Linked DNA regions of Homo sapiens: all the other regions are linked to region 1. Evidence: fine-mapped QTL for protein levels in blood plasma. A gene starts in region 1. Each other region holds a variant in brackets. All regions are shown on one strand. Distances are between the middles of the regions.

Region 1 (8,315 bases):
ATCTGGGAATCACCATCACATACTCAGGCAAAGAACGCTGCCAGGCACCAGCTGGTGGAACCCCAACACTCAGGAAGCGGAAGGTCAGGGCAAGGCAGAGACTATGGTGCCCAAGCCTGACACACCAGCTGCCTTGCAGAGTTATCAGATGATCCTACAAGCTGGATCCTACAAGATGATGATGGCTGGCTGCCTCTTGGGTTATAAGCAACCTGATTCAGCAGCAAAAATTAACAAAAATGTCTTTGTTCCTTGCATTCCTTCCACTAAAAGCCTGAGAGACAGGAGAACATCACAGTTTCAAAACATATCTATTTTATTGTTACTGGGGTGGTTAAAGAAAATAATCTCAAATATGCTTTAGATTTAACACCAACATTTCCAAAATACTCTAGATTTTTGCATCTGAAAGGAAAACGCATCTTCCATTGCAAAAGGATTGCCTTTGCTTCCTCTAATTCAGCCTAAATACTGGCTGTCATCTGATCCCCAGATTTGTCCTCTCTTGGAACTGAGCCATATAGTATGAGAAAAATAAAAAAGGATCAATAAGTGATAAAGCTTTAGGAGATGTAAAATCAGCATGTAAGGATAAATATGGCACTAATTAACCTTTACTGATGTTTTCTGCAGCCCATAATAAAAGTGTAATGAGTTCAAGACTTTACAGCATCCCAGGTGCCTTAAACAACAAAGTCTACAGGAGTTAGGTTCTCTTAGCAACAGTGAAATTCCTGACTGGACCTACCTGACCTACCCTGGTAAGCCCAGCTTTCCTTTTGTTCCTCATCGTTGAATATTTCACCTGGAGACAAAGGGAAAGCCTACTCACCAGCAGCTATTTCTATTTCCAGACTCTTAGGCAACATACAGCAATTTCCTCTAGCATTTTTTTTTTCCACTTTGTAGCATCGGGGTTTCATCATGTTGCCCAGGCTGGTCTTGAATTCCTGGGCTGAAGCAATCCGCCCACCTCAGCCTCCCAAAGTGCTGGGATTATAGGCATGAGCCACCACGCCCGGCCTCCTCTAGTATTCTTTACAAGTATTCTCCAATTCATTCCTTTCCTACTGCTCATTAGGTTTTCAAGCCTGATTCTGATTTTGATTCTAAGTCATATTCAAATTGTACATAAAGTATCAAGCAGTTTTACATCAGCATTACTTTCCCTAATGTTGGGTTGCACTGCTAGCTCCAGCAGCCTCCATCACTACAGACTAAACCTAAACTCTTCTGGGTGGCTCTCAGGTCCTACCTCACACAGGAGCCCAGACTAGCCATGCCCTCCTCATGTATTCGAACCTGTAGCTTCTACCACAGCTAGCTGGGGCCATTGTCAATGGCACCTCCACTCTCCTACCCACCACCATACTACACACAGACCACCTCCTTCTCTACTTTTCCCAAGATACCTTCTCCCTCCCATTCCTCATGCTTTAGGGGCCCCCTCCAGTTCCCCTTACTGCCTCATAATTAATGCCATTGTTATGCTCAGCCTACCAAATAAATAACCTATACATCATCAATTCATTTTCAGTAACTCATAGTAGGAGACTGAATAATGCCTCCCCTACCCTAAAGATATCCGCATCCTAGTCCCTGAAACCTATGAATCTGTGGCAAAAGGGACTTTGCAGATGTGATTAAGTTGAGGATCTTTTTTTTTTTTTGAGACAGGATCTCACTCTGTCTCCAAGGCTGGGGTGCAGTGGCATGATCATAGCTCATTACAGCCTCTGACTCCTGGCTTCAAGTGATCCTCCCACCTCAGCCTTCCAAGTAGCTGGGGCCACAGGTGCATGCCACCATGCCCGGCTAATTTTTTGGTATTTTTTTGTAGAGATGGGGTTTCGCCATGTTGCCCAGGCTGGTCTGGAACTCCTGGCTTCAAATGATCCTCCAGCCTTGGCCTCCCAAAGTTCTGGGATTACAGGAATTAGCCACCATGCCCAGCCTGTAAATTGAGGCTCTTGAGAAGGGAAGATTCTGGATTATCAGGGTGGGCCCATTGTAACCACAAAGGCTCTTAAAACAGGAAGGCAGGAGGGTCAGGGTCAGAAAAGGGGATATGACCACAAAGCAGAGATCAGAGAGACTGGAAGATGCTATGCTGCTGGCTTTGAAGATGGAGGATGGCCGTGGGCAAGTGGCCTCTAGAAGCTGGAAAAAGCAAGGAAATGGATTCTCTCGTACACCCTCCAGAAGGAACACTGCCCTGCCAACCCACTTTATATCTCTGACTTCCAGAAGAAATGTATATGTGTTTTAAGCCACTGTGTTTGTGGTAATTTGTTACAACAGCCATAGGAATCTAATACCGTTATTTACTACAAACAGCTTTAACTTCCTCTATTATTTCATAAATGCATCTCCTCTCATAAATTAAGTGTAGGCTCATCAAGCACAAGGATTAGATCTTTTTATTTTCCATCTCCACTGAGGAGTTCGACACAGTGTCAAGTTCAGATCAAGTACTCAATAATGGAATCTCTCAGTGTTTTTTGTTTTTTGTTTTTTTGAGACGGAGTCTTGCTCTGTCGCCCAGGCTGGAGTGCAGTGGCACGATCTCGGCTCACTGCAAGCTCCGCCTCCCGGGTTCACGCCATTCTCCTGCCTCAGCCTCCTGAGTAGCTGGGACTACAGGCGCCCGCCACCATGCCCGGCTAACTTTTTTTTTTTTTTTTGTATTTTTAGTAGAGACGGGGTTTCACCGTGTTAGCCAGGATGGTCTCGATCTCCTGACCCTGTGAACCACACGCCTCAGCCTCCCAAAGTGCTAGGATTACAGGCATGAGCCACTGTACCCGGCCTGGAATCTCACAGTGTTTTAAGTGTATTAAAAACTAACAGGGGAGACTAAGGGATGGGTCAGTGGGCCACAGAGTAGCAGAGGGGTGTCTGAGATACTCATGGATGTCCCAAGTTGCAGGTGAGTCTCTTCAGCAGACGGGAAGGGAGGGGTGGTGCCCTACTCAGAGGCCGAGTACACACTATGCCCAGTCCTGCCTGACAGAGTCCTGCCTCTAACCTGAAGCAGTTTATTTCCCATTTCTGGCTTCCAACCTGCGCTGCTGTGTCACCAAGTAGTGTGAGAATGGAATCTACAATGAGGAAATCAATGAGCAGTCCCATAAGTACGTATGTATTTTTCCAGTCTTTTAAACTTGTTTTTTTCCCCACCAGTAAAAGAAAGCTGCTATGGTTTGAATGCATTCCCCAAAGTTGATGTGTTGCAAGCTTAATCCTCAGTGCAACAGTGTTGAGAGGTGGAATCTTTAAGAAGCAATTAAGTTATAAGGGCTCTGCCCCCATGAATGGATTAATGCCATTATCATTGGAATGGGTTAGTTATCATGGGAATGGGTTCCTGGTAAAAGGATGAGTTCAGTCCCCTTCCCTCTCTCTCACCCATGTGATGCCTTCTACCACATGATGACACAGCAAGAAGGCCCTCACCAGATGCCAGCACCTTGATCTGGGACTTCCCAGCCACCCTCCAGAACTGTGAGGAAATAAATTTCTCTTCTTTATAAATTAGCCAGTCTCAGGTACTCTGTTATAGCAGTGCAAAACAGACAAAGGCCTATATCATTTTCATCAGGAAAAGAACTTTCTTACACCTCAGAAAAAGAACCTTCTTATACCTCCAGATGTAAACCTAACACTTAAGTGTGATACTACCTGTGGTCCTAATGTTAACATACAATGGTTGTCCTCAGAGAAGCCCTTCTCCTGGGAGGGGCATGTGGCACGGTGGTTGAGGGTGCAGGCTGGGCCTGAACTTGAATCCCAGCTCTACTGCTGACCAGCAGTGTGACCCTGAGCAGGTCCTTGGATGTCTCTACAGACTGGGGGGACCAACAGCATCCACTTCATAAAGTTGCAGCAAGGATTTAAGGAGGCCGTGGGAGTTGGGTGCCTAGGTCAGCACACTGCCCATAGTAAAGATACGCACTCAAGAAGCACAGGCTATGGTCAGGAGACCTCTGGGAACTCAACTGCTGAAGGTGAGCACAGGCTGACCCAAAAGACAGTGAGCCTCACAGCCCAGGCAAAGGTTGGAAGTGAACTTTGTCTGAAGGTCCAGGGAAGGTAGACACCAGGTCAGGTGACAAGCAAGCTATACTTTCTGGGAAAGCAGCATTTGAGTATTCAAGGTCTCTTTTAAACTTCAGGATCAAAGATAACAAGAACCCATGGATAGCATTTCACACCCATTTTGTTTTGCAGGGACCAGGTACTAACACTGTACCCTCTTCCTGAAGGTGCTTTTCAAGACATTGCATGCTGTCACCTTCAAGCAGAATAACCCACAGAAGCCTGTGGTGCCCAGAGCTCTTAAAATATGTTACTCTTGGCTTTCCTAGGAAAAATTAAGCCTGTCCAAAGATCAAACAATTGAACAGTGAGGTGATAAATAACCTTTGCCTCTCCATTTTCCCATTACCACCCTTGTGCCTGTCGTTTCCCCCCTTCTCTGGTTTCAAAACGCACTCTTGTGAACACACCCTGTAATTATCACTTGTCTCCATATATTTTTAGTTAATGTTTCACAAGAGTATCTATTAGTGGATTTTTCATGCTTCCAAGTGCAAGTTTACCCTCATGCTTTTAAGTCTATGGGTAAAGAGAAAAATAAGAGACAAGAGATGTGACTGGTAGAAGTGAGCAAGTAAAAACTTAAGAAGCCGCACAGGCTGTTTTTCAAGTTCAAGTTTTGCTAGCATTCGCTACAAGTATAAATTCTGACAATAGGCAGCATTGGGCCCATTCTTTTTTTTTTTTTTTTTTTTTTTTTTTTTGAGACAAAGTTTCGCTCTTATTGCCCAGGCTGGAGTGTAATGGCAGGATCTCAGCTCAACGCAACTTCCACCTCCCGGGTTCAAGCAATTCTCCTGCCTCAGTTTCCCGAGTAGCTGGAATTACAAACATGCACCACCACGCCTGGCTAATTTTTGTATTTTTAGTAGAGATGAGGTTTCTCCATGTTGGTCAGGCTGGTCTCGAACTCCTGACCTCAGGTGATCCGCCCACCTCGGCCTCCCAAAGTGCTGGGATTATAGGCGTGAACCACCGTGCCCGGCCGCATTGGGCTGATTCTAATCAGAAGTTGTCCCTTGAAAGAAGAGATTTGTAGCCTAGAAGACTATTAACCAATACTGCTCCAAAAGTTTTTCTTAGAGATAATTTTTATATATACATACACACGTCATATGTAATATATGGGTGTATTATATAGAACATGTTATCTTTCATCCTATATCGTTACTAAGATGACATATAGTTATTAAAATCATTTCTTCAGATGCAAAAAATAGGCCAGGTGCAGTGGCTCACGCCTGTAATCCCAGCAGTTTGGGAGACTGAGGCGGGCAGATCATTTGAGCCCAGGAGTTGGAGACCATCCTGGGCAACATGGCAAAACCCATGTTGTATTTTTCTACAAGAAATACACAAAATATATATATATGTATCCGGGCATGGTGGCACATGCCTGTAGTCCCAGCTACTCGGGAGGCTGAGGTAGGAGGATCACCTGAGCCCATGGAGGTTGAGGCTGCAGTGAGCTGTGTTCACGCCACTGCACTCCAACCTGAGTGACACAGTGAAGTGGCTTCAAAAAAATAAACAAAAAAACCAGATGCAAAACATAATAAACACCCCATTTGATTTTAGCTCACTAGTGGTAATTTGAGAGAAAAGATGATTTAAGATGCTATTCAACAATTGGAGAGATTTGACGTGGGCTATGATAATGGCATTGTGGTTACATAGGAGAATGTCTTTGTCCTTAGGAGACAGATGCTGAGGTGCTCAGGGGGGAAGCATCTGGATGTTTGTAATTGATTCTCAAATGACTCAGGGGTGGAGGAAAGTATCTGTCCAGAGAAAGAGAAAGCAAATGTGGAGATGTTCGCAATTAGTGAATCTAGTCGAAAGGCAGACTGGTGTTCATTGCACTATTCTTGCCACTTTTCTGTAGATCTGAAATATTTTTTAAAAGATGTTTAAAAAAAGATAGTTCTTGTTATGATTAAGCACAAACGCCTACTTCCTCCCAGGAAAACAGAACATATGTGTAAAAACACTGGCAATTTTCTAAAATCTTGATTAAAATGCATTGCCAAAATCAGAATATTTTTGTGTAAAATCTTATAACTAAAAATAAAATGCCTGTCTTTACTCCAACCAGTGAGTTAATACATATTCTATATTGGTGCATAGCAAAGTCAAAGAATCCATAATAAAAACAAGAAGAATATATACAAGACAGCAAAGACACATGGAATGATAAATGCTCAAGACTGGCGGGAAGCTTTTAAGGAATTCTATTAGATTTCCCATTTGTTCTCCAATGTAAATAAGGCCCTAGAATTTTAGAGCTGAGAAACATCAGGGAGAAATACAGTCCCAATAGTCCAGTCCTCAGTTTGTAGGTGATATAAGGCAGAGTCAGGGAAAATTCTATAAGTGTGGAAGTGTACAAGTGTTTCAAAGCTGTAAAGTGCTCTTAAAATCCACCTGGAACCCCTTCCTGTGAGTTACAATCAGCATTAGATCAATGTCCCTTGGAAATGTCCTACTTATTTCATGGAACTCTTTCCAGTAGAAATCAATCTCCTTGGCAATTTTAAATCATGGCAGTTACAAAAAGTTTGAAGTATTTCCAACTGAACAAGAGTAAGTCGAGTGTTCTCACAAGTTTTTCGAATGATCACGAAATATATTTGGTAAGGAAAAGGATAATGAGAAATAAAAAGCAGACACAGGACCAACAAATAATGAAAGAGCTGAAAAAATGACCATGTTACTCAATATTGATTTGCCAAATAAAACCACAAATTACTGAGTATCTTCTTTCCACTTCTTAAACCTGCTTCTGAAGCAATACTTCCATTCATTCATTCATGTATTCAAATATTTAAGCTGCTAATATGTAAAGACATCAGAAGGACTTCAATGGCCATACCGTAATTTTTTAAACTATGTAATATTGTCCTTCTATGACAGCATTTTTTCTTTTTTACAGACAGGATCTCACTCTGTCACCCAGGCTGGAGTGCAGTGGCACAATCATGGCTCACTGTTGCCTCAACCTCCCAGGCTTAAGGAATCCTCCCACCTCAGCCTCTACAGTAGCTGGGACTACAGGCATGTACCATCACACCTGGCTGATTTTTTAAATTTTTCAGTAGAAATGTCTTGCTGTGTTGACCAGGCTGGTATCAAACTCCTCACCTCAAGCAATCCTCCTGCCTCGGCCTCCCAAAGTGCTGGGATTACAGGCATGAGCTACCGCACAGGGCAGCATTTATTTTTTCTGGATATGAAGAAAGTTATTTTTTAAAGCCTAAATATGCAACTAAATTGAAAAGAATCCTCTATATCTAAGCTTTATGAAATGTGAACTGTGAGCAAATATAATTCTACATTGGAGGGAAAATATAATCTCAGGGGGAAAAAAATCCAAGCTTACGACTCTGAACCATGAAGCAACTGTCGAGATGGACCTTTACTGGATCTTGCCCTTAATTATGGGGTTCATGCAGTCTTAAGCCTGAGTTTCAAAAACCATTAATAATTACCCTTAAATGGCCAACAAAAGGAAATTTTCATAATCAGGGTGGCGTGCCCGTAAAGACTATAAAAGTGTCATGATTCTGCTCAGCTCTTCAAACTCCTCTTTGATTCTTCTAGCTGTTTCACTATTGGGCAACCAGGTTAGTGTGATTTTGGTACTACCTAGAGCTCCTTCTGTTTGCATTAATACTCTGCTTCCTTTTAGAATGGTGTGAAAGATAATGGTCTGGAGAGAAGGTGAGTTTATGCCATCTGGAGATATTCCCTGTAACTTAGAAGCTAGAAGCTGTGGTCAAGTATTCTTCAAGACCACAGCCTGCAGAGTGCAGATCAGGTACATAAAAAGTGTAGAATGTCATTAATTACTAATAAAAATGTTTGGCTCCAGGGACCATCTCCTAACAGATGTACTCTAAGAACAGACATTTAACATACTATCTAAGATGTCTTTTTTTTTTTTTTTTTTTTTTTGCAGCGGAGGCTCGCTCTGTCACCCAGGCTGGAGTGCAGTGGCATCGCACTCACTGCAACCTCCGCCTCCCGGGTTCAAGCGATTCTCCTGCCTCGGTCTTCCAAGTAGATGGGACTATAGGCACGCACCACCACGCCTGGCTAATTTTTGTATAGAGACAGGGTCTCACCATGTTGGCCAGGCTTCCATGGTCTCGAACTCCTGACTTCAAGTGATCCACCCTCCTTGGCCTCCCAAAGTGCTGGGATTACAGGCATGAGCT
Region 2 (8,315 bases), 240 kb before region 1:
TGTTCCCCTCCCTGTGTCCATGTGTTCTCGTTGTTCATCTCCCACTTATGAGTGAGAACATGTGAAGTTTGGTTTTCTGTTCCTGGGTTAGTTTGCTGAGGATGATGGTTTCCAGCTTCATCCATGTCCTTGCAAAGGACATGAACTCATTCTTTTTTATGGCTGCATAGTAGTCCATGGTGTATATGTGCCACATTTTCTTTATCCAGTGTATCATTGATGGGCATTTGGGTTGGTTCCAAGTCTTTGCTATTGTAAATAGTGCTGCAATAAACATGTGTGTGCATGTGTCTTTACAGTAGAATGATTTATAATCCTTTGGGTATATACCCAGTAATGGGATTGCTGGGTGAAATGGTATTTCTGGTTCTAGATCTTTGAGAAATCACCACACTCTCTTCCACAATGGTTGAACTAATTTACACTCCCACCAACAGTGTAAAAGCATTCCTATTTCTCCACATCCTCGCCAGCATCTGTTGTTTCCAGACTTTTTAATGATTGCCATTCTAACTGGTATGAGATGGTATCTCTTTGCGGTTTTGAGTTGCATTTCTCTAATGACCAGTGATGTTGAGCTTTTCTTCGTACGTTTGTTGGCCACATAAATGTATTCTTTCAAGAAGCGTTTGTTCATATCCTTCACCCACTTTTTGATGGGGTTGTTTTTTTCTTGTACATTTGTTTAAGTTCCTTGTAGATTCTGGATATTAGACCTTTGTCAGATGGACAGATTGCAAAAATTTTCTCCCATTCTGTAGGTTGCCTGTTCACTCTGAAGATAGTTTCTTTTGCTAAGCAGAAGCTCTTTAGTTTAATTAGATCCCATTTGTCAATTTTGTCTTCTGTTGCCATTGCTTTTGGTGTTTTAGTCATGAAGCCTTTGCCCGTGCCTATGTCCTGAATGGTATTGCCTAGGTTTTCTTCTAGGGTTTTTATAGTTTTAGGTTTTACATTTAATCCTTTATTCCATCTTGAGTTAATTTTTATACAAGGTGTAAGGAAGGCATCCAGTTTCATAGTAGGTGTATATGTTTATGGGGTATGTGAGATGTTTTGATACAGGCATGCAATGCATAATAATCACATCATGGTAAATGGGGTATCCATCCCCTCAAGCATTTATCCTTTGAGTTACAAACAATCCAATTACACTCTTTTAGTTATTTTTATTTATTATTTATTTTTTGAGATGGAGTTTCACTCTTGTTGCCCAGGCTAGAATGCAATGGCACAATCTTGGCTCACTGCAACCTCCACCTCCCCAGTTCAAGCAATTCTCCTGCCTCAGCCTCCCGAGTAGCTGGAGCTGGGATTACAAGCGCCTGCCACCACGCCCGGCTGTTTTTATATTTTTAGTAGAGACAGGGTTTCACCATATTGGTCAGGCTGTCTCGAACTCCTGACCTCAGGTGATCCACCCACCTCGGCCTCCCAAATTGCTGGGATTACAGGCGTGAGCCACCATGCCCGGCCTCTTTTAGTTATTTTTAAAGGTGCAATTATTACTGACTATAGTAAACCTGTTGTGCTATTAAATAGTAGGTCTGATTCATTCTTTCTAACCATTTTTTGTACCCATTAACCATCCCCACAAGTCCCCTATGCCTTCACTGCCCTTCCAAGCTTCTGGTAACCATCCTTCTACTCTCTATGAGTTCAATTGTTTTGATTTTTAGGTCCCACAAATAAGGGAGAACATGTGATGTTTGTCTTTCTGTGCCTGACTTATTTCACTTAATATAATGACCTCCAGTTCCATCCATCTTGTTGCAAATGACAGGATCTCATTCTTTTTACGGTTGAATAGTGCTCCATTGTGTTTATGTACCACATCTTCTTTATCCATTCATCTGCTGATGGACAGTTAGGTTGTTTCCAAATCTTGACTATCGTAAACAGTGCTGCAACAAACGTGGCAGTGCAGGTATCTCCTCAATATACTGATATCCTTTCTTTTGGGTATATACTCAGCAGTGGGATTGCTGGGTCATACGGTAGCTCTATTTTTACTTTTTTGAGGCACCTCCAAACTGTTCTCCATAGTGGTTGTACTAATTTACAATCCCACCAACAACGTATAAGGGTTCCCTTTTCTCTGCTTAGGCAACTTTAAATTGTATGTATAACCAGCGTGTGGAGAAGAACCGGGATGAACAATAGAATAAAAGGTGAAATAAGTGATTTGAATGAAGGAGAAAGTAACACTAACAGCCATCATCACCACCACCATCTTCATTAAAATCATATCTAATACTGACTATCTGTCTTATTCTATGCACTATATTAATACTAATTCTATGCACTATACTAATAACTACTGTCAATCAGCTTCTGGGAGTGATATGCCGTCTTAGTTGTTCAGACCCAGCACACTAAACTACTAATAACTAGTGCATAGAATAAGTCATACTAATAACTACTGTGTCTTCTTTATATATAAAATGTTTAGGTATGATTCCTGAAAGGTCGTTTAGACCTGATTTTCAAATGGCCACTCCAATCATCAGAGACACAAGTATCCATCAATTAAGAGAAAACCAAAATCATACTCAGATGAACCTTGGGGAAATGTATCCAAAGCCCTTTAATAGAAGAAAAATTAAATAGCTATGATTTATTGAGCATTTACTCTGTGCCAGACACTGCACTTAACGTGCTGCAAGAATTATCTCCTTTAACTTCACAAGACTCTCAGAAGTCCGATTATTAGCCTTTGGTCCCTTCTGTGTGGAGGGCTAAGAAAGGGATGCAAAGGTTGGGAGTAACTGGATGAAATCTCTCAGAGCCCCAGCCCCATACTCTATCTTCTGTGCACATAAAATGACCAGACTCCTGGTCAGAGACAAAGGACAGCAATAGCCACAGCTAAAATAACATCACGTGCACTGGTTCCCTGAATCCCAGTTTCCACAGGGTGATGCAATGAGGGCCAGACGATGCCTGAACATACATTACAGGTGCATTACAGGAAAGGAGTTCCAAGCTTAGGAAACCCCAACCTTTGATAAGAGGGCTACTAGTAAACCTGCCCTGGAGAGACACATTATCCTGGACAGCAAACAAATCTACCTTCTGCTCTGGAGGGAGACACTCTCTCTACCTTCTAAGGCTCCTCATTATGCAAACGTCCTTGAAAAGTTAGTCTGGAACACAAATCTGTTAATGCATTCGCCCAGATGTGCAGAAATGCAAATTACCGTTGGAGAATTGCCTCCCAACAAACAAATGGTCCAGCAAGGTTTTATAGGATTATTCCAGCACTCCTAGGTAAGTATAATTGTAGGAACAGAAATTAGGATTGTACATGTTTCTAAGCTTCAACTTACTTAATTATTTTGAAAGCCATTGTAGCATGTCTATAGGCTGTATTGTCAAAAATCATTCACCTATTTCGAAGATAATACAGTGCAAAAAATGTTTTTATAAATATTGAGTGCCCTTCCTGACACACAGATAGGCTCTTGACAGAACCCACTTATACCCACTGCAGTGTATATTTAGTCATGGACATCCTAATGATAGGAGAGTTCATCCTATCATTGAGCTCTCAAGCATTCAGTCATTGAACTCATCAAGTGGGTTTTCTGAGAAGAATAAAGTTACTAATGGTGTTGGTGATTAAGTTTGTGAATGAATAAATTAAATCCATCGATACTTTATTAACAACTATTAAGAGCTGCTAAAAGGGTGCCATAGGCCAGGTGAAACTGGTTTAGTTCAACCTTCAACCTATTAGATTAATATCTAATTAACCCTTATTAGTTCCTCTTTACAGATGAGGAAACCCATATAATAAGTATATTTCCCAAGATTACACAGTAGATGGCGAAAAACACATCTATCTCACTCCACATGTAGTCCCAACATGTATTAACAGGACTCTTTCTGATCACCTTTAGGCATATCAGAATACTTTTAGAAACCAGGGACCTTCGTGGGCTCATAGAGAAACTTGAATTTGGATTCTGAACCCATATAAAATGATAACACCATTTTTGTTTCTAAAATAACCACTCTCCAACCAAAAATTGAGGACCCAAAAATGCCTTTTCCCGAATGGAATGGGGGAAAAAATAAGCCGCGGCATTTGTAAAAGCTAGTCAATGATGTATTAGCCTCTGGATTATCATAAAACTAGTTTGGTAATTCTGTGATTGTTATGAAGTTAATAGTAACTAGGGAAAGTTACCCGAAGCCCTCAATCATTTATTTAGTGCTGGCAATATCCCAGGGGGG[A/G]AAAACCCACAAGCAACTATTTAAACCACTTCACATATTCATGAAAAAAAAGAACATGAGTATTTATCAATTAATAGGAATTTCCATCTTTTCAGTTCTTAAACTTAGAGAAAAAATATAGGAAAAATCATAACTATGTTTGCATCATAAATACTATAGTATAACAGCCTCGTAGTTTGATCAAGATGTCATTCTATCCATGTGTGTGAATTCCAATGTGACAAAGTCAAACGATAGCATAAGAGGATTCAATTCCCAAAAAATTTTAAAATTAGAAAAATCCAAAACACATCAACATATTGACACACTTCAATTTTCAGAATTTTGGAGATGTTCATTATTTTTATTCATGTTCATCATAATTATTATAGTGTACCTATGAAGTCTGATGAGCATCCAAATAAAGATTATCAGCTTTTACCATGCTTAAGAATCTATATTGAGTTTGAGATCTAGGCTTTTCTCACTGACATTTTTACAAAATAATAAAGATAAAATATAATAAAACATTCAAATAATGGCACAAGCACTGCTGTGCAAAGATGGAGATGCTTTTAAACCTGATGGATGAATGACAGGTAGCACCAATATATGATGGCTTGAAATACTCACTCATCAGATGATATACTTAAATTTCAATTTGGCTAATGAAAGGCAGTTTAAGGATTTCCTGATGAATAATGTATTAATATGTGGGATGCATAAAACTCAAATTACAAAGGTCAGCACAGATCAAATGCAAGACTTCTGAATTTCCAGGTGTGATGGCAGCTAGCTAGCACTGTGTGCTCCTCAGTTTCCATTATCACTGCAGAACACCCATGGATGCACAGGACATTTTATTTCACAGAAGTCCTGGAAGCTGAGCAAAGCAATCAATGACTTGCCTCCCACTAGTAGAAATTCTGTTGGCCGTAGGGGAGATGAGCTTGACATTAAATTGTCGTATTCACTTCCTAGTCCTTCGAAACAGGACAGAGCCAGAGAGGAAATAGGAAGGAGTGGAATGTAACTGACCCCCCAATATCCACCCCTACCTTGGAGAGAATAGGTCTGAGTCACACCTTTTCTGCAGGAAAACAACCCTCTGAGTCGCTTAGGATTATAGATACCAAGAATTTGGCTAAGACCTGTACCCATCAACTCACTCCCTCAAGTTACAATCTGAGGCAGAAATTATGACAAACCCCAATTGGTCCATGAACATAACCAGAGAGAGAGTAGTATTACCTCATCTTCTGCAAAACTCAGGTCAGGCTAGATCTCTTTCTTGCAAGGATGAACTCACAGGTGGGGAATAAAAGAATTTAACATGAAAAGATCAATAAAAATATTTTGCAACATTAAAACCTGATCACATAGCAGTTATTTTTCAAATGCTGATGTTCCAGGTACTCTGCTTAGCACTTCACATACTTACCTACCTTAATTTTCAGAGCCACCCCATGAGAGAGGCACTGAAGTCCCAGAAGGATAATTAAATCTTCAAAGTCACATGGCTGATTGGTGCCAAGGCTGGGACTCAAATAAAAATTGAAGGTCTGTGCTCCTAATCACGCCCCAGGCTCCTTCCCAGGGAACCAGGGACCTGTGCTTCTCAACTCTCAGGACACATACAAATCCCTGGTTGAAGTGGGGAGGGTGGCAGTGGGGGCAGGGGAGCATGTTATGTTAAAATGCAGATTCTGATTCAGTGAGTCTGGGGTGGAGTCTGAAAATGTACATTTCTAACAAGCCCCTGGGTGATGCTGATGCTGGTGGTGCTTAGACCACAGTTTGAGCAGCAAAGATCAAGAAAGTATGCAACTGTGGGGAAACAGGAAGAAGTTAGGTTCTCAAAAATATGGCAAAAACCTCAATTACGTTTGCACCATCCTTATATATAAGAAAATCTGAACTCTGTGAAGTAGGCAATGAAAGAAGAAATAAAAGCATGCAAGGCTGGCATGAAAATAGAAGGGTGAAGAAAGAGCTGGGACAAATTGCAAAGAATCCAAGGAAACTACAAAGAAAGAAGTATCCACTAGAGCCAACAAAAGAGCAGAATCTGCATTAGGAAACAAATAAAAAATGTATAAGGCAAACTTACACAGCACTCCAAAAATAATGAGGGGAAAGAACAAAAGGATGAAAATGGTAAAAAAAAAAAAAAAAAAAAAAAAAAGATTACAGCAACAGGAACAAAGATACAAGCTTCTAAAAACAGGCATTGTAGAGGGGGAAGCAGGAAAACTGGGGCAAACAGTAAACTTGACGATACAGTACAGGAAAACATTCCTGCACGGAAGATATTCAGACTTAACACTGAAAAAGTGAGGGTAATTTCCCATGGCAGATGCTGTTGGTGCCCTGCTTCGTTTCCCCTCCTGACACTTCAGACTCCACCTGCTGCTACGGTGGACTGTTCCCTGGGCTCCCTGACAGCTCCCTGCTTCAAGCACCCATATCCCTCTGCCTTCGAGAGAGCTTGTGCACCAAGAAGCTCAGATTTAACACCCTCAGATTAAATCAACCAAGGCGGAGCCAGATTCAGTGGATACACACCTCAGGTTCACCTTCACAGGCTGGGACAATTTTGAGGTGTGCTCTACATTGTCTCCCAATATCCCCAATAAGATTGAGCCCCAGTCATCTGCAGTTGTAATCCACACATTCACTCACCCTTTATTGGCTTTTCTCTCTTCCTTGCCCCAATTCCCACTCCCTAACTTGGGTATCCTGGGATCACCTCCCAATTAAATTATTGGCTCCCAAGTCTTTGTCTCAGGATCTGCTTTTCAGGAAACACAAGCTAAGACATGCCCCAAATATGTGAGAGGAAAATCCTTAACTATATTCAAAAGGAAAGAAATTCCACGTTTAATGATGTGTTATTTAATGGGTCAAGTGGCTCCCATGTTTTGAATTCTGGAGCTTACAGGCAGCACTAAAGTGGGCAACAGATGAGTCTTCCCAGACCTCACCCCTTTCACCACTTTCCCCTCCTTTGGGCTCCACTATACATGGTGTATAACATCCAGAATGTCTTAGAGTATGATTCCTATCCTTTGTCTCCCCCTCTTACCTGTCAACACCTCATATACAGAAACTGCAATTTAATGGCTTTATATCCCAAGCATATAGCACAGTATCTTACACATAGAAGGCTCTTGATAACTTGCTAAATAAATGTTGGGTCAATAACTGGGTCCTAGGACTGGCTCTGCCACTGACTAGCTGTGTGACCTTGGAAAAATCACTTAAAGGCTTAACTGGGCCTCAGTTACCTCCATTTATAATATGAGATAACTTGACTCTGTGTTCTCTGAGGTCAAGTTATTATATGAATCTAGATAAGTAAAATTTCTCCCCACTCTCTGATTTCTTTTTTTTTATTTTTGTGGGTACATAGTAGGTGTATATATTGATAGGACACATGAGATGTTTTGATACAGGCATGCAATGTGTAATAATCACGTCATGGAGAATGGGGTATCCATCCGCTCAAACATTTGCCCTTTGTATTACAAATAATCCAATATGCTCCTTTAGTTATTTTAAAATGTACAATTAAGTGATTATTAACTATAGTCACCCTGTTGTGCCACCAAATAGTAGGTCTTATTCATTTTATCTAACTTTTTTTTGGTACCCATTAACCTGCCCCACGTACCCCCCATCTCTGATCTCTTGAGCCTGGTTAATGCAGTATAAAGCTGGCCATACTATAAGGGAGACAGTCAAATCTTTGTGGATCACACTAAGCTGTAACTACGGTATTTTCTAAAATCCTAGCACTTAACAGCTTCTTTTTGTGCCTAAGTAAAATTCTACTGGTGACTATGATGTACCCTTATTGTCCAAGGCATTGTCTATGCCTGTGTTGTCCATTATGGTGGACACTAGTCCCATGTGGCTATTAGGCCCTTGAAATGTGCCTAGTCCCAAATGAGATGTGAGGTAAGTGTAAAAGACACACTGAATTCTGAAAAATGTAATACCAACAAAATGTGAAATATCTCAGCTGTGTTGTATGGATTACATGTTAAAGTGCTCACATGTTGGATATATTGGGCTAAATGAAATACATTACTAAA
Region 3 (8,315 bases), 72 kb before region 1:
GGAAGTGCTGGGAGGAGAAGGATGGGGTCCCTGGTGAGGGCTCCACCCCCAGGCCTGTGCCCACGGACCTAGGTGAGGACAGGAATTTCTGTTTTCATGCCCAAATGTTGCATTTCCCAAGACCACCCCGGGCCACCATGCCCCCATCCTGTGCCTATAAAAACCCTGGGACCCTAGTGGGCAGAGACACAAGCAGCTAGGAACACACCAGCAGAAGAGCACACAAGCGGCAGGACATCTAGAGAAGCAGAGGGGCAGAAAAACACACCAGCAGAAGAACACACTGACAGACTCTGGCAAGCCATGGACTGCAGAATGGTGGGATGACACGGAGTTCAGTGGAGGGTGGTCAAAGCAGCCTGACTCCAGGGGAAAACCACCTTCCCACTCCATCCCCCTTCTGGCTCCCCATCCATCTGCTGAGAGCTACTTCCGCCATTCAATAAGGCCCACGTGTGATCCGATTTTTCCAGTACACTAAGGCAAGAACCCGGGATACAGAAAGCCTTCTGTCCTTGCAATAAGACAGAGGGTCTAATTGAGCTGATTAACACAAGCTGCCTGTGGACGGCAAAACTGAAAAAGCGCATTGTAACACACGCCCACTGGGGCTTCGGGAGTTGTAAACACTCAACCCTAGATGCTGCTGTGGGGTCAGAGCCCACGCTCTCCACAACCTGCCCATCTGCATGCTTCCCCTAGGGGTACCACAAGCGGGGCACCGAAGAAGCAAGCCACAACCCCATGGCACACCCTGCAAGGGGGACAAGGGAACTTTTCCCGTTTCATTACCACATGTGGCTATTGAGCATTGAAATGTGGCTAGTCTGAAATTAGATATGCTACAGGTGTCATATTTACACCAAGGTTTGAAGACTTGATATGGGAAAAGGAATGTAACATATTCCATTAGTAAAATTTATATTGATTACATCTTGGAATCTATGTTTTAGATATATTGGGTTAAAATTACTCAATTACTAAAAGTAATTTCACCTCTTTTTTTTTTTTTTTTTTTGAGACAGAGTCTCACTCCGTCTCCCAGACTGGAGTGCAGTAGTGTGATCTCAGCTCACTGCAACCTCCACCAGTTGAAGTGATTTTCTTGCCTCAGCCTTCCGAGTAGCTGGGACTACAGGTGCATGCCACCACACCTGGCTAGTTTTTGTATTTTAGTAGAGACAAAGTTTCATCCTGTTGGCCAGGCTGATCTTGAACTCCTGACCTTAAGTGATCTGCCCGCCTCATCCTCCCAAAGTGCTGGGATTACAGGCACGAGCCACTGTGCCCAACCCACCTGTTTCTTTTTACTTTTTAACACAGCTGCTAGAAAATTTCGAGTAATGCATGTGGGTGACTCACATTATATTTTTTGGATAGCATAGGTCTACAGAGCAGCTAGCGTAAAGAAGGAAAGAGAAAGGGGATCTTGGAGCTCTTCTAAAACCTGGGATGTCTCTGCCTGTTAATAAGAAGAGTGACAGCTTTCACAGTGACTCACAACTTTCAGGATGCTCTGATTCTGGGCAACGTTTTTTGAGAAGCTGGACACACTGGGCCTGAGGAGCATCTTTGGTAAGTGTCTGGGATGCTAGCTAATAATTGGTCTTGCCTGCATTTACAATACAATGATGCATCTACTCAATTCCTACTCCTCTCTCAGGACTTGGTTCAAGCATTGTATTAAGGCCTTCCCCAGCTGGATCATATCTTACAGGTCTTCTGTATTCTCTGCTGCATCATTCAGAGTCAAGCCCATCAATGTGTGTACAATACCTGTGACAGTCTGAACTAATTATTAGCCTTTTCCCTGTACATTTTTCCTTAGTATCTCTCATAGTTATCTTTTTCACTAAATAGAGAAGTAGAATCTCACCTGAAATAAGAATGCCGCTTGAACAATATAGAAAAAAAAATCATTTTTGTGTGATATGTCTTTAGAAGAACCCAGAACAGTCTGGTAACATGACGTCCAGGGAAGGGAACAAAGTAGTTGAGGACAGAGGTTAAAGAGAGACTTTTCTGTGACCTTTTATTTTGGAACCTCATGTCATACATTCTTTTAAAACCTTTTTAAGAGACTATCTTCACTATATAGAAAAAAGGGTTTTAAAACTTGGATTCTACTGAAGCCTTGAAAAAGATTTTCTTGCATCACAGCCTTTAGATCAGCAGTTGACCAACTTTCCCTGTAAAGGGTCAGATAGTAAAAGTTTTAGGCTTTGTGAATCTGTGTCAACTACTCTCCTTTTGTAGCATGAAAGCAGCCATAGACATAAAGGAATGGGTGCGGCTGTGTTCCAATAAAACTTTATTTACAAAAATAGGCAGGCCTGAGCCTGTTAGGGGTAGGAGGTGGGGGAAGTCACATCTTTAAATAACGCCTCCTTTGTATGATACAGAATTTGTAATCATGCTCTTTACTTTTTCATTCTTAAACAGGTTAAAATAAATCTTTTAATTCAAGTAAAGAATTATGCTTAGGGCTGGGCACAGTGCCTCATGCTGGTAATCCCAGCACTTTGGGAGCCTGAGGTGGGTGGATAACTTGAGGCCAGGAGTTCGAGACCATCCTGGCCAACACAGTGAAACCCCATCACAACTAAAAATAGAAAAAATTAACCAGGCATGAAAATGCATGCTTGTAATCCCAGCTACTTGGAAAGCTGAGGCAGGAGAAATTCTTGAACCCGGGAGGCAGAGGTTGCAGTGAGCCAAGATCACACCACTGCACTCCAGCCTGGGCGACAGAGCAAGACTCCATCGCAAAAAAAAAAAAAAAAAAAAAAAAAAAAAAAAAAACAGAAAAAAGAAAAAAAAAGAATTATAAAAGAATTATGCTTAGGAAGTTTGGAAAAAAGGAAAGATAATGGGGGGAACAGGAGAAAAACATCTAGTTTATGAGATAAAACCATAGGGTCTGTGATAGTCCCTCAGAAAAGCAAAGATGTTTCAAAAGCCACAAAAGAAAAATCTCATCCTATCAGAAATCTTGGTATGAATCAATGCTGGCAACAAAGAAGTCACATTCTGGGTTGAAAATTACTTTTGCATCTTCTTACCTCTGAAGACACTGAAACAATTGTGCAAATCAACTCAGAAATTGCTATTCCAGAAATGTAGATCATATAAATTATCCAAATATCAATCTCTTACCATTAAATTCTCTACAGAAGTGATTATCATGACAAGTAGTCTCATCATCCTGGTCTGTGGCATGTGATGAGGTTTCTCTAGTTCAGAGAATCCCCTTGAGAGGATGATTCAGCCTGGAAAACTTTAGTTTCCTGGGATGCTGGCTCCATCCTCCAGGTTCTAGGCTTTTATCTTACTCTATAGAATTCTCCCAGCATATTGACTAAAAGCATAGTCTCCCTCAGAGAAAACAAATCGAAACAATACATCTATCTTCAAAACAATTTCGTGTCGAAGAAAAAGATGAAAGTTTAAGACAACACTCAAGCTTAAAAATGAGCTCTATGATCAAATGGTATCAACTGGATTCCCCAGCTTTTCACTGTTATTTGTCTCAGAGGAAGCAGGTAATACAGACAAAGCCACAGGGATGGAAAGTGGGCCTCACTCAGGAGCAATGAAACTGAATGACGTCCATGGAATTTGCCATCATCTTTTAGTGATATTCAGGGACATCAGTCTCAAAGAACAGAAGCTATTTGTATTGAGTACACATGAAAATAGATGGGAACAATAGACACTGGGGACCATTAGACTGGGGAGAGAGTGTGGGAGAAAGCACAGAAAAACTACCAATTGGGTACTATGCTCACTGCCTGGGTGATGGGATCATTTGTACCCCAAACCTCAGCATCATGGAATATACCCAAGTAACAAACCTGCACATATACCCCCAAATCTAAAATAAAAGTTGAAATTATTTTTTTAAAAAAGAAGCTGCTTGTGATGGGGCTCAGGACATACTACTCCAAAATATGTCACTTCAGC[G/A]TATCAAGTATTTGAAGCTGAAGAAATCTGAGGAAACCACAATAGCAGGAAGGTCTCTCTGACCTTTCCCTGCCCTTCTCCTCTGACGGAGGTCATAAGACCCTAGGTGAGAGGTGCCGTCCCTACAGCTGGAGCAAAGGAGCATTCTTATCTCTGAAGACACAGGGACACAGAGAAGAATGTGAATGAACAAGCCTTGCTAAGTTCCCCCAGTTCACTACCCCAGATCATACTCTTTGCCCTATCATATTTCTCCATTAATCTTGTGACAGGAAAATAAATCTTGGTGCCCCAAAATCACTAAGCTAACGGGAAAAGTCAAGCTGGGAACTGCTTAGAGCCAACCTGCCTCCCGTTATATTCAAAGTCATCCCTCTGCTCATTGAGATAAATGCATATCTGATTGCCTCCTTTGGAAAGGTTAATCAGAAACTTAAAAGAATGCAACCATTTGTTTCTCACCTACCTGTGACCTGGAAGCCTCCTCTCCATCTCCAGTTGTCCTGCCTTTCCAGATGGAACCAATGTTCATTTTACATATGTTTGAGAGGTGACAGCGAGCTGGCAGTCCTCAGAGCCCTCGCTCCCTCTCCGCGCCTCCTCTGCCTGGGCTCCCACTTTGGCGGCACTTGAGGAGCCCTTCAGCCCACCGCTGCACTGTGGGAGCCCCTTTCTGGGCTGGCCAAGGCTGGAGCCGGCTCCCTTAGCTTACAGGGAGGTGTGGAGGGAGAGGCGCGAGCGGGAACCGGGGCTGCGTGCGGCGTTTGCGGGCCAGCTGGAGTTCCGGGTGGGCGTGGGCTTGGCGGCCCGGCAGTCGGAGCAGCTGGCCGGCCCTGCGGGCCCCGGGCAATGAGGGGCTTAGCACCCGGGCCAGCGGCTGCGGAGGGTGCGCTGGGTCCCCCAGCAGTGCCGGCCCACCAGCGCTGTGCTGGATTTCTCGCCGGGCCTTAGCTGCCTTCCCGTGGGGCAGGGCTCGGGACCTGCAGCCCGCCATGCCTGAGCCTCCCCCCGCTCCGTGGGCTCCTGTGCGGCCCGAGCCTCCCTGACGAGCGCCGCCCCCTGCTCCACGGCACCCAGTCCCATCGACAACCCAAGGGCTGAGGAGTGCGGGCACACGGTGCGGGACTGGCAGGCAGCTCCACCTGCAGCCCCAGTGCGGGATCCACTGGGTGAAGCCAGCTGGGCTCCTGAATCTGGTGGGGACGTGCAGAACCTTTATGTCTAGCTAAGGGATTGTAAATGCACCAATCAGCACCCTGTGTCTAGCTCAGGGTTTGTGAATGCACCAATCCACACTCTGTATCTAGCTACTCTGGTGGGGCCTTGGAGAACCTTTATGTCTAGCTCAGGGATTGTAAATACACCAATCACACTCTGTATCTAGCTCAAGGTTTGTAAACACACCAATCAGCACCCTGTGTCTAGCTCAGGGTTTGTGAATGCACCAATCCACACTCTGTATCTAGCTACTCTGGTGGGGCCTTGGAGAACCTTTGTGTCCACACTCTGTATCTAGCTAATCTGGTGGGGACGTGGAGAACCTTTGTGTCTAGCTCAGGGATTGTAAACGCACCAATCAGCGCCCTGTCAAAACAGACCACTCTGCTCTACCAATCAGCAGGATGTGGGTGGGGGCCAGATAAGCGAATAAAAGCAGGCTGCCCGAGCCAGCAGTGGCAACCCGTTGGGGTCCCCTTCCCCAATGTGGAAGCTTTGTTCTTTCGCTCTTTGCAATAAATCCTTCTGCTGCTCACTCTTTGGGCCCACACTGCCTTTATGAGCTGTAACACTCACCGCGAAGTTCTGCAGCTTCACTCCTGAGCCAGCAAGACCACGAACCCACCAGAAGGAAGAAACTCCGAACACATCCGAACTTCAGAAGGAACAAACTCCAGACGCGCCACCTTAAGAGCTGTAACACTCAACGCGAGGGTCCGTGGCTTCATTCTTGAAGTCAGTGAGACCAAGAGCCCACCAATTCCAGACACATGTTGACTGATGTCTCATGTCTCCCTAAAATGTATAAAACCAAGCTGTGCCCCTACCACCTTAGGCACATGTTGTCAGGACCTCCTGAGGCTGTCATGGGCACATGTCCTCAACCTTGGCAAGATAAACTTTCTAAATTAACTGAGACTTGTCTCAGACTTTGGGGGTTCATATTTTGGCAACCACGAAGGGATTATATGTGGAGATGCCCCTGACCTTAGGCAAATCTCCTATCAGTGCTTGGTACCAGCCTGAGCTAACTTTATGGCTCAAACCAATAGGACAATTTGTTGAGGTCTGGAAGCACTCCCTCCAGAGAATCCCCAAAATTTGCTTGAGATCAAAAGTTTATTTTGCTATACAACTCCTTTTTTTTTTTTTTTTTTTTTTTTTGGAGTTTTCCTTGCTTCCAACAAGGAAGGTAGGATTTCCTGTTTCCATGACAATGGAAGGCAGGTAACTGCCTTATAGAGTTTGAGCTCACTCCCAGCAAGGAAGATGAGTTTGAGGGTTTTTTTCCTGCTTCTAGGATGGTAGAAAGCAGTCTTCAGCCTGAGACCCATTCCTAGGTAAGTAGCTGAATTGGGGTTTTGTCTTGGTTAAAGTTTAACTACCAGCTGGTCTTAATTTCTCTTTACCGTTAGAGCGCTCGGTGATCATGTTGGGGGTTTTTTGTTATTGTTGTTTATTCCGGTCTTTCTCCCATCAGATTTGACCAACTCTACCTGACTTGGTCCGATCTGAGTGAGAATTCCAAATTATGGGTAACAAAGCCTCTCTAATTTGGCCCAAATTCCTTGCAGCTGCAAAAGAGGGAAAAAAGAAAACAACAACAACAAAAACAAAAAACAATGCCCTTGGTTTCTGTGTTTGCTTCCTGTCTTAAAAAAAAAAAGTTCTTTCATTTACTTTTCTTTCACCCTACACCTCCTTCCCTTCTAGAGGAGGCTTCTAATGACTTGAACTCCTTTAAAGAATTCAGAACAAAGGTGCCACTTACCTCTTTGTAGGGGGTGTTCTGTTTTCTTTGTGGAGTTTCAAGAGTCATGGACAGATTCTTCTTAGGATGAAAGCTCTGTTTTCCTGTATTGCCTGACCTGACCTCTTTGGCTTTGGAGGTACCAGAGATTACCATGTACTGTGAGAAGATTTGACCTTGGTGTGTGTAATGGCGGACAAGAGCTACAAAGTAGGGGTGGCTGAGCACAGTTTACAGGAAATGGTCTTGGCGGCTGCTGTTGTTTTTTCTCTCCTAGGAACTTGTTAAGGATCTTAATTCTAGTTCAGGCATGCATTCTAAGGGGTCTTCTCTATTGCTTTTTCTCCCAAAATTAATCTCAATTCAGCTTGTCTGTGCTCATTTGCGTGAGGAACTGAGCTATTGTTTTCATAGATAAATGAGAGACTGAGTTTTCTCAGCTCCAAAAAGAAAGGGCATTTGCTCCTCCCAGCCAAAAGGTGCCCCAGGTGACCAGGGGCTTCATGGGAGTGTCTGGGGGGTTAACCCCAGTGGCAGTAGCCCCACAGGGAAATCCCCAATAAAAATTAATTTTTTAAAAAGGCTCATCCAGGAAACACACATAAGAGTTGATCACCAGGCATTTTGAGCCCTCTCCAAGGTCACAGACCTCTGGAGAGAGAAGCTGAGACATGTAAGAGGGTGGAAGCAACTCAGTGGTGACACACTGTGGAGTCCTGCCCACAAGCAGCACGCATTGATCCACCACACAAAACCCCTAGGCCACAGCTCAGTTCTTCCTTTTAAGGAAAAAAAATGTGGGAGACAATCTAAAACTGAGGAGAAAACAAAGAGAATGACCCCCTTTCGAGCACTCCTTAGGTTTTATGGCACCTCTACTTGGCAGAGTTTATGTAAAATAGAAGTAATATGGTTTTTGTGCTCATTTACATTAAGGAAAAAGAGCCCTAAGGTTGACCTGCAAACTATAGAGTTCCTAAGTTCTCTTTTTCTCTATTTTTCTTTTCTGCCTACTTTAAATCTGCTGTTATTTTTCTATTAAGTGAAAACCACTGTTTGGATCAAACAGGTTTTTTTTGCAAGCCTGTGAATTTGTATTTATCTCATGGCTAAAGTTCTCATGGTTAAAGTTCTGAAGTAAAAGCTAGAGGATCTTTGTGTGTGTGTGTGTTTGTGTATATTTGAAAGGCCTTTATAATTTCTATAATTTTATGTTTAATTGGCAATTAAATCCATTTTAATTTCCCTCTAGCACACCAGACTTTTTCTCTCCGTACCTTAGGATGTAAATTTTGCTTTTTGATTTTCACCTGAGTTGTTTCCTTTCATATGCAAATTTAAAGCTATTTAGCTGACAACTGCCTAGGGTAATAAAACAGGTTAT
Region 4 (8,315 bases), 320 kb before region 1:
GAAGAATATATAAAAGTATCTTTACATAAAATTTAAGAGCATGTGCTATTTTAAGAAATGATTATATGAACTGGATTAACTATAATACTGTACTACAGATGTGCTGAGAAGCTGAATTTCAAGTATGTTAGTATGGTAGTCACGTTACATTATGTTATGTTGTGGTAGTAAGTGAACCCTCAAATTGCAGTGGCCTACATCAACAAAGATTAGCTCTCATGTCACCTGACTGTTATATATTATTGCTGGCTCTGTCTTCATTCTGGAACCCAGACAGATAGAAAAGCCATCAGTAGTGAAGGAAATAAAAATATTTCATACCAAAATATATTTCTTTGAGATGGCTGTTTAAAGGGCCTGCAAACAGAAGCAGCCCTGAGAAGCTGTCTTTTGTGAAGATTTGCATCTATAGAGAAAATCTGCATTGATGCAGGCAGGCTTTCTCTGAGGCTTTCCTTTGTCTGGATTTAGAAAATACGAACAGAGAGTCTGACATCTTTATAGGTCTGAAAGAATCATTTACTATCTATTATCTCTGAGGGTTGCTACCTGTGAGGTTTCATCTACATAACAAGACCACCTTTGCTAGCCAGGCCTCCTCTTCTCTCCCTCATAACTAGTCTTACTACCATAACCTGATTTGCCACCATAACCTGTTTTGGGCCATGCTCTGAGCCCCCATTCTTTCTGTAACCTGAAGAAGATATAGAATCTTCTATATCCCATTGAGGGGAGGGTTGAGTAATCACTGTGGTTCTCCCCATACATGTTAATAAATTTGTATGCCTTTTCTCCTGTTAATCTGCCTTTTTTCAATTGATTTCTCCATGAACCTTCGGAAGGCAAAGGGAAAGTTTTCCCTTGCCCCTTACAGTAGCAAAATGACCACTGGCCATTAGACATGGCCATTAAAACATTGCCATTAGACATGACAAAAAGAAAAGGCATGGTGCCTCACATGATTACCTTTAAAGCTTCTGTTTGGATGTGACTCATGTAATCTCCATCTGTATTTTGTTGGCGAATGGAAACCTTATGACCTCTCTGAAGTTCACTAGAGTGGGGATGTATAAATCCTCCCACTGGGCTCTCCCAGTGGGAGGGAAGAAAACCAGACAGACACATTTGGCCATAGTTAGATGTTCTCCTTGGTGTATAACACTTTATAATAGGGCTAACATGGCCCAATTCTATTTCATAGATTCTCCTCCCCATAACAAAAATAGAGTGTAGCAATTATTTAAAAGCCACATGTAGAAAAACCACAATGCACCATCTTCATCATTCATTCAATGGATACTTATTCATTTTGTAATTCACATTTGTGCAGAACCTGTTGGGTTCTTCTTGCCCACCACACAGATAAAGCCAATTCATTGAGACCAAAGTATGGCAGTAGAGAAAGAAAGAGTTTGATAATTGCAGGGCCAGCCAAGTGGAAGGATGGGAGACATTTCTCGAATCTGCCTCCCTAAAAGCATGGAGGCTAGGGTTTTTCAATAATATTTAGTGGTCAGAGGGCTAGGGAATGGAGAATGCTAATTGGTTGGGTCGAGGATGAAATCATAGGGTCTGGAAAGTAACTCAAACACCAATCTTAGGTTTTACAATAGTGATATTAGCTATAGGAGCAATTGGGGAGTTTTTAAATGTTGTAATCTCCAGCTATATGACTCCTAAACCACAATTCTAACCTTATGGTTAATTTGTTAGTTTTACAAAGGCAGTTGCAGTCACTGAGCAACGATGGGATTCGTTTTGGGAAGGAACTGTTATCATCTTTGTTTTAAAGTTAAACTGTATACTAAATTCCTCCCATAGTTAGCTTGGCCCATACCCGGGAATGAATAAGGGCAACTTGGAAGTTAGAAGCAAGATGGAGCCAGTTAGGTCAGATTTTTCTCACTGTTATAATTTTTGAAAAGGTAGTTTCAATTTTCTTCTATGGGCTAGGCACTTTGTTAGTCACAAGAAATTCTTTAGCTACAGGAAGAATCAAACAATCACTTAGAATACAGGGTGAGTAAGTACTGTGCTAGTGGGATGCACAGGCAGAGAAAGGGAATATAACTCAGACTGAATGACTCATGGAAATATTCCCAAATGAGGTGACATTTAAAAATGTTTTTGAAGGTTGGTTAAAGATTATCTAGGGAAAAAAGAAGGAAAACAGCAAGCAATACTTAATGGTGAAACATTAAAGCTTCTTCATTGTGATTGGGCAGAAAACCCAGTGTGCCAACTGTCACGATTCCTATTCAACATCGTGCAGTGCAATGAGGCAAAATAAAGAAATAAAAGGTATGAGGATTCTAAAGGGAGAAACAAAACTATTTTGTAATGATGCAGACATTTTTAAACATTATAGTTGTTTGCATAGATAATCCAAAAGCATCTATATTAGAATTTATAAGTGAACTTAGCAATATTTCTATATATAAAATCAGCATATAAAATACATTGAATTTCTACATACTAGTAACAAACGCTTAGAAAATAAAATGTTTTCAAAGCGATGCCATTTATGACAGGATAGAAACATCAAGTACTGAGGAGGGCAGCCAAGATGGCCGAATAGGAACAGCTCTGGTCTACAGCTCCCAGTGTGAGTGATGCAGAAGACAGGTGATTTCTGCATTTCCATCTGAGGTACCAGGTTCATCTCACCAGGGAGTGCCAGATACTGGGTGCAGGACAGTGGGTGCAGCGCACCGTGCGCGAGCCGAAGAAGGGTGAGGCATTGCCTCACTCGGGAAGCACAAGGTGTCAGGGAGTTCCCTTTCCTAGTCAAAGAAAGGGGTGACAGACGGCACCTGGAAAATCAGGTCACTCCCGCCCTAATACTGCGCTTTTCCGACGGGCTTAAAAAACGGCGCACCAGGAGATTATATCCCACACATGGCTCGGAGGGTCCTACGCACACGGAGTCTCGCTGATTGCTAGCACAGCAGTCTGAGATCAAACTGCAAGGCGGCAGCGAGGCTGGGGGAAGGGCACCCGCCATTGCCCAGGCTTGCTTAGGTAAACAAAGCAGCTGAGAAGCTCCAACTGGGTGGAGCCCACCACAGCTCAAGGAGGCCTGCCTGCCTCTGTAGGCTCCACCTCTGGGGGCAGGGCACAGACAAACAAAAAGACAGCAGTAACCTCTGCAGACTTAAATGTCCCTGTCTGACAGCTTTGAAGAGAGCAGTGGTTCTCCCAGCACGCAGCTGGAGATCTGGGAACAGGCAGACTGCCTCCTCAAGTGGGTCCCTGACCCCTGACCCCCGAGCAGCCTAACTGAGAGGCACCCCCCAGTAGGGGCAGACTGACACCTCACATGGCCAGGTACTCCTCTGAGACAAAACTTCCAGAGGAACGATCAGACAGCAGCATTCGCGGTTCACGAAAATCCGCTGATATGCAGCCACCGCTGCTGATACCCAGGCAAACAGGGTCTGGAGTGGACTTCTAGCAAACTCCAACAGACCTGCAGCTGAGGGTCCTGTTAGAAGGAAAACTAACAAACAGAAAGGACATCCACACCAAAAACCCATCTGTACATCACCATCATCAAAGACCAAAAGTAGATAAAACCACAAAGATGGGGAAAAGACAGAGCAGAAAAACTGGAAACTCTAAAAAGCAGAGCGCCTCTCCTCCTCCAAAGGAACACAGTTCCTCATTAGCAATGGAACAAAGCTGGACAGAGAATGACTTTGACAAGTTGAGAGAAGAAGGCTTCAGACGATCAAACTACTCCGAGCTACGGGAGGAAATTCAAACCAAAGGCAAAGAAGTTAAAAACTGTGAAAAACATTTAGACGAATGTATAACTAGAATAACCAATACAGAGAAGTGCTTAAAGGAGCTGATGGACCTGAAAGCCAAGGCTCGAGAACTACGTGAAGAATGCAGAAGCCTCAGGAGCGGATGCGATTAACTGGAAGAAAGGGTATCAGTGATGGAACATGAAATGAATGAAATGAAGCGACAAGGGAAGTTTAGAGAAAAAAGAATAAAAAGAAACAAACACAGCCTCCAAGAAATATGGGACTATGTGAAAAGACCAAATCTACATCTGATTGGTGTACC[T/A]GAAAGTGATGGGGAGAATGGAACCAAGTTGGAAAACACTCTGCAGGATATTATCCAGGAGAACTTCCCCAGTCTAGCAAGGCAGGCCAACATTCAGATTCAGGAAATACAGAGAATGCCACAAAGATACTCCTCGAGCAGAACAACTTGAAGACACATAATTATCAGATTCACCAAAGTTGAAATGAAGGAAAAAATGGTAAGGGTAGCCAGAGAGAAAGGTCGGGTTACCCACAAAGGCAAGCCCATCAGACTAACAGCAGATCTCTTGGCAGAAACTCTACAAGCCAGAAGAGAGTGGGGGCCAATATTCAACATTCTTAAAGAAAAGAATTTTCAACCCAGAATTTCATATCCAGCCACACTAAGCTTCATAAGTGAAGGAGAAATAAAATACTTTACAGACAAGCAAATGCTGAGAGATTTTGTCACCACCAGGCCTGCCCTAAAAGAGCTCCTGAAGGAAGCACTAAACATGGAAAGGAACAACTGGTACCAGCCACTGCAAAATCATGCCAAATTGTAAAGACCATCGAGGCTAGGAAGAAACTGCATCAACTAATGAGCAAAATAACCAGCTAACATCATAATGACAGGATCAAATTCGCACATAACAACATTAACTTTAAATGTAAATGGACTAAATGCTCCAATTAAAAGACACAGACTGGCAAAGTGGATAAAGAGTCAAATCCCATCAGTGTGCTGTATTCAGGAAACCCATCTCACATGCAGAGACACACATAGGCTCAAAATAAAAGGATGGAGGAAGATCTACCAAGCAAATGGAAAACAAAAAAAGGCAGGGGTTGCAATCCTAGTCTCTGATAAAACAGACTTTAAACCAACAAAGATCAAAAGAGACAAAGAAGGCCATTACATAATGGTAAAGGGATCAATTCAACAAGAAGAGCTAACTATCCTAAATATATATGCACCCAATACAGGAGCACCCAGATTCATAAAGCAAGTCCTGAGTGACCTACAAAGAGACTTAGACTCCCACACAATACTAATGGGAGACTTTAACACCCCACTGTCAACATTAGACAGATCAACGAGACAGAAAGTTCACAAGGATACCCAGGAATTGAACTCAGCTCTGCACCAAGCAGACCTAATAGACATGTACAGAACTCTCCACCCCAAATCAACAGAATATACATTTTTTTCAGCACCACACCACACCCATTCCAAAATGGACCACATACTTGGAAGTAAAGCTCTCCTCAGCAAATGTAAAAGAACAGAAATTAAAACAAACTGTCTCTCAGACCACAGTGCAATCAAACTAGAACTCAGGATTAAGAAACTCACTCAAAACCACTCAACTACATGGAAACTGAACAACCTGCTCCTGAATGACTACTGGGTACATAACGAAATGAAGGCAGAAATAAAGATATTCTTTGAAACCAACGAGAATAAAGACACAACATACCAGAATCTCTGGGACACATTCAAAGCAGTGTGTAGAGGGAAATTTAATAGCACTAAATGCCCACAAGAGAAAGCAGGAAAGATCCAAAATTGACACCCTAACATCACAATTAAAAGAACTAGAAAAGCAAGAGCAAACACATTCAAAAGCTAGCAGAAGGCAAGAAATAACTAAAATCAGAGCAGAACTGAAGGAAATAGAGACACAAAAAACCGTTCAAAAAATTAATGAATCCGGGAGCTGGTTTTTTGAAAGGATCAACAAAATTGATTGACCGCTAGCAAGAATAATAAAGAAGAAAAGAGAGAAGAATCAAATAGATGCAATAAAAAATGATAAAGGGGATATCACCACCGATCCCACAGAAATACAAACTACCATCAGAGAATCCTATAAACACCTCTATGCAAATAAACTAGAAAATCTAGAAGAAATGGATAAATTCCTCGACACATACACTCTCCCAAGACTAAACCAGGAAGAATTTGAATCTCTGAATAGACCAATAACAGGCTCTGAAATTGTGGCAATAATCAATAGCTTACCAACCAAAAAGAGTCCAGGACCAGATGGATTCACAGCCGAATTCAACCAGAGGTACAAGGAGGAGCTGGTACCATTCCTTCTGAAACTCTTGCAATCAATAGAAAAAGAGGGAATCTTCCCTAACTCATTTTATGAGGCCAGCATCATCCTGATACCAAAGCTGGGCAGAGACACAACAGAAAAAGAGAATTTTAGACCAATATCCTTGAAGAACATTGATGCAAAATCCTCAATAAAATACTGGCAAACCGAATCCAGCAGCACATCAAAAAGCTTATCCACCATGATCAAGTGGGCTTCATCCTTGGGATGCAAGGCTGGTTCAATATATGCAAATCAATAAATGTAATCCAGCATATAAACAGAACCAAAGACAAAAACCACATGATTATCTCAATAGATGCAGAAAAGGCCTTTGACAAAATTCAACAACGCTTCATGCTAAAAACTCTCAATAAATTAGGTATTGATGGGACGTATCTCAAAATAATAAGAGCTATCTATGACAAACCCACAGCCAATATCATACTGAATGGGCAAAAACTGGAAGCATTCCCTTTGAAAACGGGCACAAGACAGGGATGCCCTCTCTCACCACTCCTATTCAACATAGTGTTGGAAGTTCTGGCCAGGGCAATTAGTCAGGAGAAGGAAATAAAGGGTATTCAATTAGGAAAAGAGGAAGTCAAATTGTCCCTGTTTGCAGATGACATGATTGTAGATCTAGAAAACCCCATTGTCTCAGCCCAAAATCTCCTTAAGCTGATAAGCAACTTCAGCAAAGTCTCAGGATACAAAATCAATGTACAAAAATCACAAGCATTCTTATACACCAATAACAGACAGACAGAGAGCCAAATCATGAGTGAACTCCCATTGACAATTGCTTCAAAGAGAATAAAATACCTAGGAATCCAACTTACAAGGGATGTGAAGGACCTCTTCAAGGAGAACTACAAACCACTGCTCAATGAAATAAAAGAGGATACAAACAAATGGAAGAACATTCCATGCTCATGGGTAGGAAGAATCAATATCCTGAAAATGGCCATACTGCCCAAGGTAACTGATAGATTCAATGCCATCCCCATCAAGCTACCAATGACTTTCTTCACAGAATTGGAAAAAACTACTTTAAAGTTCATATGGAAGCAAAAAAGAGCCCGCATGGCCAAGTCAATCCTAAGCCAAAAGAACAAAGCTGGAGGCATCACGCTACCTGACTTCAAACTATACTACAAGGCTACAGTAACCAAAACAGCATGGTACTGGTACCAAAACAGAGATATAGATCAATGGAACAGAACAGAGCCCTCAGAAATAACGCCACATATCTACAACTATCTGATCTTTGACAAACCTGAGAAAACCAAGCAATGGGGAAAGGATTCCCTATTTAATAAATGGTGCTGGGAAAACTGGCTAGCCATATGTAGAAAGCTGAAACTGGATCCCTTCCTTACACCTTATACCAAAATCAATTCAAGATGGATTAAAGACTTACACGTTAGACCTAAAACCATAAAAACCCTAGAAGAAAACCTAGGCATTAGCATTCAGGACATAGGCATGGGCAAGGACTTCATGTCTAAAACACCAAAAGCAATGACAACAAAAGCCAAAATTGACAAATGGGATCTAATTCAACTAAAGAGCTTCTGCACAGCAAAAGAAACTACCATCAGAGTGAACAGGCAACCTACAAAATGGGAGAAAATTTTCACAACCTACTCATCTGACAAAGGGCTAATATCCAGAATCTACAATGAACTCAAACAAATTTACAAGAAAAAACAAACAACCCCATCAAAAAGTGGGCAAAGGACATGAACAGACACTTCTCAAAAGAAGACATTTATGCAGCCAAAAAACACATGAAAAAATGCTCACCATCACTGGCCATCAGAGAAATGCAAATCAAAACCACAGTGAGATACCATCTCACACCAGTTAGAATGGCAATCATTAAAAAGTCAGGAAACAACAGGTGCTGGAGAGGATGTGGAGAAATAGGAACACTTTTACACTGTTGGTGGGACTGTCAACTAGTTCAACCATTGTGGAAGTCAGTGTGGCGATTCCTCAGGGATCTAGAACTACAAATACCATTTGACCCAGCCATCCCATTACTGGGTATACACCCAAAGGACTATAAATCATGCTGCTATAAAGACACATGCACACGTATGTTTATTGCGGCACTATTCACAGTAGCAAAGACTTGGAACCAACCCAAATGTCCAACAATGATAGA

Alleles and levels. Alleles are on the strand shown, and positions count from the first base shown. The strength of an association depends on the size of the effect and on how common the allele is.
For the plasma level of the protein whose gene starts at base 7,676 in region 1, A is the low allele of the variant in region 2 and G is the other (weak association).
For the plasma level of the protein whose gene starts at base 7,676 in region 1, A is the high allele of the variant in region 3 and G is the other (weak association).
With allele T in place of A in region 4, the plasma level of the protein whose gene starts at base 7,676 in region 1 is lower (weak association).

What was found. A credible set is the group of variants that fine-mapping cannot tell apart. PIP is the chance, under the fine-mapping model, that this variant and not a neighbour inherited with it causes the effect. The UK Biobank Pharma Proteomics Project read protein levels with antibody pairs (Olink). The fine-mapping took linkage between variants from a reference panel, not from the people measured, so its PIPs are less certain.
Region 2: its variant is the best candidate, but not a certain one, in a credible set for the plasma level of the S100G protein (UK Biobank, PIP 0.56).
Region 3: its variant is the best candidate, but not a certain one, in a credible set for the plasma level of the S100G protein (UK Biobank, PIP 0.60).
Region 4: its variant is the best candidate, but not a certain one, in a credible set for the plasma level of the S100G protein (UK Biobank, PIP 0.85).

Annotation. Positions count from the first base shown.
Region 1 is chrX:16,642,483-16,650,797 of GRCh38, forward strand. It overlaps S100G (S100 calcium binding protein G), which reads left to right and starts at 7,676. Exons shown (of 3, transcript NM_004057.3): 1 at 7,676-7,721. The region is part of intron 13 of CTPS2 (CTP synthase 2); the gene reads right to left.
Region 2 is chrX:16,398,071-16,406,385 of GRCh38, forward strand. No RefSeq gene overlaps it. Among named protein-coding and RNA genes, the nearest start is that of MIR548AM, 220 kb to the right of the region's middle. The variant A/G (reference allele first, on the strand shown) is at 4,240.
Region 3 is chrX:16,570,765-16,579,079 of GRCh38, forward strand. No RefSeq gene overlaps it. Among named protein-coding and RNA genes, the nearest start is that of MIR548AM, 52 kb to the right of the region's middle. RefSeq lists enhancers at 4,992-5,495, 7,009-7,512, 7,513-8,017, 8,018-8,315. The variant G/A (reference allele first, on the strand shown) is at 3,964.
Region 4 is chrX:16,319,096-16,327,410 of GRCh38, forward strand. No RefSeq gene overlaps it. Among named protein-coding and RNA genes, the nearest start is that of MAGEB17-AS1, 150 kb to the left of the region's middle. The variant T/A (reference allele first, on the strand shown) is at 4,075.